Linked DNA regions of Homo sapiens. The protein of the gene in region 2 purifies or fractionates together with the protein of the main gene of each other region. This does not show direct contact. Each region holds a gene or a part of one and is shown on either strand. Other genes may lie near its edges.

Region 1 (3,587 bases), on a different chromosome or scaffold from region 2:
TTGTTCTAATACAAGTAGTTCAAGAGATGCACTTTGAGATACACTGATCGATTCTTGTTGATGGACAACTTTCAATCTCATCAAATTAACTATAGCCAGTACTCCAAATGACTCTCAAATCTCTACCTCTAGTGCTGTCCTGTTCTTACTAGATGAAATTAACTGAGTACTGGATCCTTATATTGCAGATCTTACAAGCATCTCCAACTCCTTTTCCGGAGTGGAGGCTGCCATCTTTTCTTCACCCCTAATCTTCTTCCTGCATTCCCTTGTGACACTGCCATGACTAACTACCTAAGCCATTTAGTTATTCAACAAACATGTATCAAACACCTACCATGTGCTCAGTTTGGGGCTAAATTAGGGGATATAAGGTCAATATCAGATAGCCATGGCCCCTATCCTTATTGTGCTTAAGTGTGGGAGCACAGAAAAAAATCAAGCCAAACAACGAATGGAAGACAATAATTATAACTTTACTACACCTTGTAAGGTAGAGTGTCATGAAAAACTTTCTTGAGAAAGTGACATTTAAGCTGAGATGACTCAAGAATGAGAAGGAGCCAACCATGCAGAAGGGGGATAAGCAAGAGGACTGCGAATTCCAAGCAGAGAGAAAATACGGGCCAAGTTCTTGAGGTGGGAAAGAATGTTGAGTTTTCAAGGAATAGAAACAAAACCAGCAGGGCTAGAACATAGTATACAAGAGGAGCATGATATAAAGTAAAGCTGGAGAGATGGGAAAAGAGTGCCATTAAAAAAACAGAGCATTTTGTCCAAGGCAGTTCTTGGTCCTTTTTGAGCTCCTTGGCAGTATGGTGAAGCTTAAGAACCCCCTTCTCAGAATAAAATGTTTAAATGCATAAAATAAAATCAATAAAAAAATAAAATAAAATAAATAGTATTATGAAGAAAAGTCATTATATCAAAATATTAATAAACAAACCAGTGCTATAGTATTAAATATGCTCTTCATTAATATATTAAATAAGATCTAGTGGCAGGTCTCATAATTATCATATTTCAAAGTGGGGATGAATGCAAACAATATTTCAAGATCTCTGCAACAACAAAAATATGATTAAAAATGTCTGTGATTTCTACTGGTAACAAAGTTAGAGGTACTGCTACTACTGCTGTGGTTTGCTGTTTGCATCATAATTGAAGAAAATACTACATTGTGGCTCGAGGGTAGTAAATAACCAGATATATTAGGTTGCTGCAAAAGTAATCGCGGTCTTTGCCATTAAAAGTAATGACAAAAACCGTAATTACTTTTGTACCAACTTATAACTTTTCCCTATCCATGTTTTTAGATGCCCCAAATTCTGCTTATTCTATCTAATCTTCATGGAGAACCCTGGTTCTGTAGAAGTCTTCTAACTTAAGTAAACTATTGAGGAACCTGAGCTGAGAGTATCTCTGTGAAACCAAAAGGAAAAGGACTTCTGCTTATTACGAATGTGTACAAAAACGGTTTTTTTGTTTTTGTTTTTGAGACAGAGTCTTGCTCTTCTTCCTGGAGGGCAGTGGCCGGATCTCGGCTCACTGCAAGCTCCGCCTCCCGGGTTCATGCTATTCTCCTGCCTCAGCCTCCCAAGTAGCTGGGACTACGGGTGCCCGCCACCATGCCCGGCTAATTTTTTGTACTTTTAGTAGAGACGGGGTTTCACCGTGTTAGCCAGGATGGTCTCGATCGCCTGACCTCGTGATCCACCCACCTCAGCCTCCCAACGTGCTGAGATTACAGGCGTGAGCCACCGCGCCTGGCCCAAAAAAGGTTTCTAACCACTTTATATATTTGAGAAAATTCCAAAGAAATGTGACAATGCAAAACCAAATCTGAAAGTTGTTTTACTTTAAACATTCACTCTCAAATTATTCATTTAATAATAATTTACAAAAAGACATTTGGGGTCTTAAAAAAAAAAAAGAATAGGGACCCCACGAACTGAAGACAAGAGTAAAGGTTTTTCGTGAGAGAAAACTGGAAAGCATATAAAATAAGTATATTTCAGAAACTGACATAAACATTCATAGACTAGAAAGCTTTCCTCTTCCTATTCCCATTTAGGAAAGCATCCACTATCAGAACCTTGCTTTGTGATTCAGTGACCACCAGATGATGTCTGGAACTGCTATAGCACAGCATGTGTGAGTTGTCAAGGTGTTGGAATAAAGACACGAAAATGAAAAGCTGCACTTCTGCATTTATCACTTAAAAAATATGAAATGCTTCTGGAAAAAAACAAACTGCAACTTACTGAGAAGAAAAGTGGTCTTACTTTACATGCCATCTGTTATCTCAAAAAGCCTTAGTGGACAGTGGTATTCTCTGACACATTAAGCATTAACACAATATAGCATAATAGTTATAGCACATGTTCTGAGGTCAAACTGGCCAGGCTGGAATCCCAGCTCTACCACCAACTAGCTGTGTGATGTGGGGCAAATAACTTTTCTTATCCTCAGTATGCCACCTGAAAAATAACCTGCCTCATGGGGTTGCTGTGAGAAATTAAGATGAAATATATACAATAAAATGCTTCACACAGTTCTGCCACAGAATGCAGTAAAAATGGTCAGTCAATCTTAGCTGCTATTAAAGCATTCTTAAAAGTTCTGGAAAAGAACAAGTTCTCCCTCCTTTCCCCAATCCCATTACCTCTGTCAAATAGCCAGTTGAGTTCACAAACTTCTCAAATTCAGTATTACTGACTTCATAGGCATCCATGTAAAAGGCATCAATAGTAACTCTCCTCGCAGGTGCTTCCCCATCCTGCTTTATCTGAGGATCATCTGTGCCCATTGTAAATACTCCAGCAGGGATGGGGACCATCTACAATGAAAGGTGAAACACAGGAAGTCATGCATCACAGCCAAGGTGTACCTGTGTAGGGGTAAAGTTCCTAGCACCCAGGAAGCACGCAAGTTTGTAAATCTTCACCACAGTAATAACTGTAAAATTCGGAAAAATCTCTCTATACCCCAAAGAAGGTGAATCACGAGTCTCAAAAAGAAGTGAAAATTCTTTAAGAAGGTAATCTCCTTAATCAAACCACTACTTGATACAAATCTGTACCTGCACTGGAAACAGGTCTGGAATAACAGTCACCAAGCCGCTAACGGCTAGAATGCAGAGGTAGCGAGAATATCCCACTTTTCTTTTTTTTTTGAGACAGGTTCTCACTCTTTTGCCCAGGCTGGGGTGCAGTGGCATGATCAGGGCTCACTACAGCATTGACTTCCCAGACTCAAGCGATTCCCCCAACTCAGTCTCTCAAACAGCTGGAGTACAGACATGTGCCACCATGCCCAACTAATTTTTTTTTTTTTTTTTGAGACGGAGTCTTGCTCTGTCGCCCCAGGCTGGAGTACAGTGGCACAATCACGGCTCACTGCAACCTCCACCTCCCGGGTCCAAGTGATTCTCCTGCCTCAGCCTCCTGAGTAGCTGGGATTACAGGCGCCCACCACCATGCCCGGCTAATTTTTGTATTTTTAGCAGAGACAGGTTTTCACCAAGTTGGCCAGGCTGGTCTTGAACTCCTGACCTCAGGTGATCCACCCGCCTCGGCCTCCCAAAG
Region 2 (3,587 bases):
GTGAGCCACATGGCCCTGCTGTACCCTAAACCTGACTCTCCCAGCAAGGCCTCACTCAGCCTCTACAAGGCCTGACTTGGACTCACCTCGATCACCTTTTTGCCCTCTCAGGCCCGGCTTCCCTGGAGCTCCGATGCCAATTCCTGGATATCCTTTTTCTCCTTTGGGTCCAGGGAGACCAGCAGGCCCAGGCACACCGGTGATACTAGGTCCTAGGAGGAGATGCAGGGGTAGGGGGCAGACCTCAGTGGAGGTGAGGCCTTCCTGCCTAACTCACTCGCCTGTGGCCTGAGAAGCCTGACTGACAGACACCAGAGGCAGAGTACTGAAGTAACAAGAAAGAAAGTTAATCTGAGTAGAAGAAAAAAACCCATCCTCTTTCTTCTCCATATCAAGGGACCTCAAATTGGAGGTTAATAAGGAGAGCTATGAGTCCAAGGATATGGGATACACCACAGTCGAGAATTCATGGCCAGCCCTTGCCAGGCTTCTGGAAGAGCTGATGCCCTCCTCTTCACCCTGAGGGTCTTCCTAACCTGGAGTGCCATGGGTACCCTTGGTGCCCGGAAGCCCATTCAGTCCATGTAAACCAGGAAATCCAGGGAAGCCTGAGGGGAGAGAATGTCAAAAATGGCTCCAGCAACTCTGAATCATGAAGCATCAGCAAGAGGTAGCTACCTGCCCCCAAAGGCATTGCGAGGTCCTTATTTTAAAGTCCTGGTCTTTTTTGAGGCATTTACTTAATGCCCTAAGGGAGAAGAAAACACTCCCAACCTATATCCTACACCACAGGTTCTCATGACTCTTATCAGAGACCAATACAGCTTTAGGAGTAAGATGGCAGCTCATTAGGTATCTTGAAGAAGAACTCAGAGTAGCAATGTCAAGACCTTGAGTTGTCAGCTCCCAGAGACTGGTTCCAGAAACTCACTGCCCAATCTCTAAGTCAGGGAAAGGCTACACATGCCAGGGCAATTGCCTTCCTTGCTAGCTCTTCTCTTCATGGATCCCATATTCTTCTCTTCACACTCATGCTTGCCTGCCTTCATTACTCTTCATCTTCCTTTCCCATGATTCCTCATGTCCAATGACTCCTGTAGGCATGGCTTAACCCTAGCTAGTATCTTCTAAGATAAAGTAGTTGGTGTCCTTCATCGAGGGAAAGACTTTTCCCCACTGCCTGCTCCCAAATACACATACCTTTGGGTCCTATTAATCCGGGGGATCCTAGAGGCCCAATTGCCCCTTGGTGACCAGAAGAACCTGGAAGTCCTGGTTCTCCTCTCATGCCGGCAACTCCTGGAAATCCTAAATGTGAAACCAAGGCAGAGGTTCAGAATGGGGCATGGCTTGAAGCTAATCCAAACTCTTTCAGAATAAGGTTATCATGTGGCATGGTACCTGGAGCTCCAGGAAGGCCAACATCTCCAGAAACACCAACTTTTCCATCTTCACCTTTGTTTCCAGGGAAGCCTATATTGCCTATTAGTCCATCTCTTCCTTTTGTGCCTATAAAACCAAGAAAAATGCTGAGTGATTAGGCCATATTTCTAGCAGTGTATTCCTCTATGGGAAAGAGTAGATTCTGAATTGCTGAAGGAGCTAGACCCAATGAAGAAACTCTAAAAAAGATAGTGGTGGCTGTTTTCACATTAGAAAGGTGCCCTACAATTGAGAAGCAAGTAAATTTGTTATGAGTATCCCTTCAGAAGTGGGAGCAATAAGTGGAAATGTTCAAGAAGGACAGTTTAGATAACAACTTCTAAACTAAGGGGATGTAGGCCATTATCCCAAAGGTCTTTGCCAGTCTATGAGTCTTGAAGGAAGAGTAGGCTGATTTGCTTGGGGAATTGATAGATAGGAAATTTTCTGCACTGGATAGAAGTTGCAGAACTTGGGGTTGACCTCCAAAATTCCTTCTAATCCTCAGTTTTGTGGAGTCTGTGAGGCAAACAAGACAAAAATATAGCAACCTTACCTTTAAAACCAGATTCGCCAGGCTGTCCCTTGGGTCCTGGGCTACCGGAAATTTCAACTGTCTGGCCGTTGTCTCCTGAGGATTCCAATACATTGTTTAAATGGCCAGGAGAAGCTATAGCTCATTTTGCACCACTGAGATCTTTTGAACACATTTTTTTTTTCAGATTCAGTGTAGCCAGAGGAGCTCCTTGACAAAATTATCTATTGGGTAAAAAGTGATGAACCACCATCCAGGAGCTGGGATGCTGCTACCAGACTACTGGCATGAAATGCTGCTACATACAGCATATCTCCATTGGGAAACACATCACTAGGCTCAGTATGGGCAGAGAAGATGGTAGGCAGGGCCCTCAAACATCACCAGAATGGAACAGTGATGCCAGCAAGAATGGGAAATTTTCCTGCCTAGTGGGCTGGGTTTATCAGGGGAAGAGACTGGAGCCGAGGTTCTCCTCGCTGCTAAGTCTGGAAAGCAGATGGGCAAAACCACAAAGCCAAAGGACAGCCTTTTCCTTGGATCCATGAAAGCCACAGAGAGAGATCTTGGTAAGTACCATTGTTTGTTGCATTGTCTGTGAGGAACAAGGACTGCAAAAGGGGTTTGGCCAAAGGGAAAATGTAAATTAATTGACTTTCCCCTAAACACAGACTCTCCGCTACCCTCGCAAGAGACCCTTGGGATGGCCAGGTGCAGTGGCTCACGCCTGTAATCCCAGCACTTTGGGAGGCTGAGGTGGGCAGACCACGAGGTCAGAAGTTTGAGACCAGCCAGACCAACATGGTGAAATCCGTCTCTACCAAAAATACAAAAATTAGCCGGGTGTGGTGGTTAATGCCTGTAATCCCAGCTACTTAGGAAGCTGAGGCAGGAGAATCGCTTGAACCCGGGAGGCAGAGGTTGCAGTGAGCTGAGATTGCGCCACTGCACTCCAGCCTAGGTGACACTAGGTGACAGAGCGAGACTCTGCCTAAAAAAGAAAAAAAAAAAAAAAAAAAAAAAAAGAGAGAGACCCTTGGGCCTGCTAGAAATCTACCTTGCTCTAGAAGAAAACATTAAAAGAAAAAAAAAATGCTCCTTACCTTTCAGGCCTGGGAGACCAGATGCTCCTGGGAGTCCAGGCGACCCTCTGATACCTTGTGAACCCTTCGAAGCAATATGGGAATCATCATTTCTGCCCAGAGCTCAGGACTGCCCACCCTCTTACTTCCTCACCCCTCACTGAGCCACTGCCTGAGAGATGTCCATCATGTATTCTGTGGCAAGGGTGGACTGTGGGCTGGAAGTGGGGATGTTATGTCCTGCAAACGGGAAGGTGATGAACAAAGGGCAGAGCACATACTTAGGGTTTGTAGGGGAAGGATTCGATTCCACTGCTTATCAAAATGGGAATCTTAGAAAGTCACAGTGTGGCCATTCTAGCGAGTCTCTCAGAAAATGCAGAAGATGACAGGCCAGGCACTCAATGGACTCAACACACAGTTGGCTACCACTGTCCTTGCCAAAGCTCTGGAGCCATTATGCATAGGAAGAAGTTTCACTTCACCCTGCAGGGTTAGCCCTCTGCCACAGGTTCCGCAAGGAACACAAGTTCTTTCTGCCACCAGGT

Evidence for each region.
Region 1: the proteins of COL4A6 (region 2) and SUMF1 fractionate together in Homo sapiens (co-fractionation; one large-scale study listed by BioGRID). This does not show direct contact.

The regions. Positions count from the first base shown.
Region 1 is NC_000003.12:4,450,211-4,453,797, forward strand, and holds part of SUMF1 (formylglycine-generating enzyme isoform 1 precursor), read right to left. Parts: intron 2,840-3,587; coding exon 2,666-2,839; intron 1-2,665.
Region 2 is NC_000023.11:108,169,409-108,172,995, forward strand, and holds part of COL4A6 (collagen alpha-6(IV) chain isoform B precursor), read right to left. Parts: intron 3,125-3,587; coding exon 3,061-3,124; intron 2,054-3,060; coding exon 1,979-2,053; intron 1,510-1,978; coding exon 1,402-1,509; intron 1,309-1,401; coding exon 1,201-1,308; intron 609-1,200; coding exon 537-608; intron 213-536; coding exon 87-212; intron 1-86. UniProt on the Homo sapiens protein: Type IV collagen is the major structural component of glomerular basement membranes (GBM), forming a 'chicken-wire' meshwork together with laminins, proteoglycans and entactin/nidogen.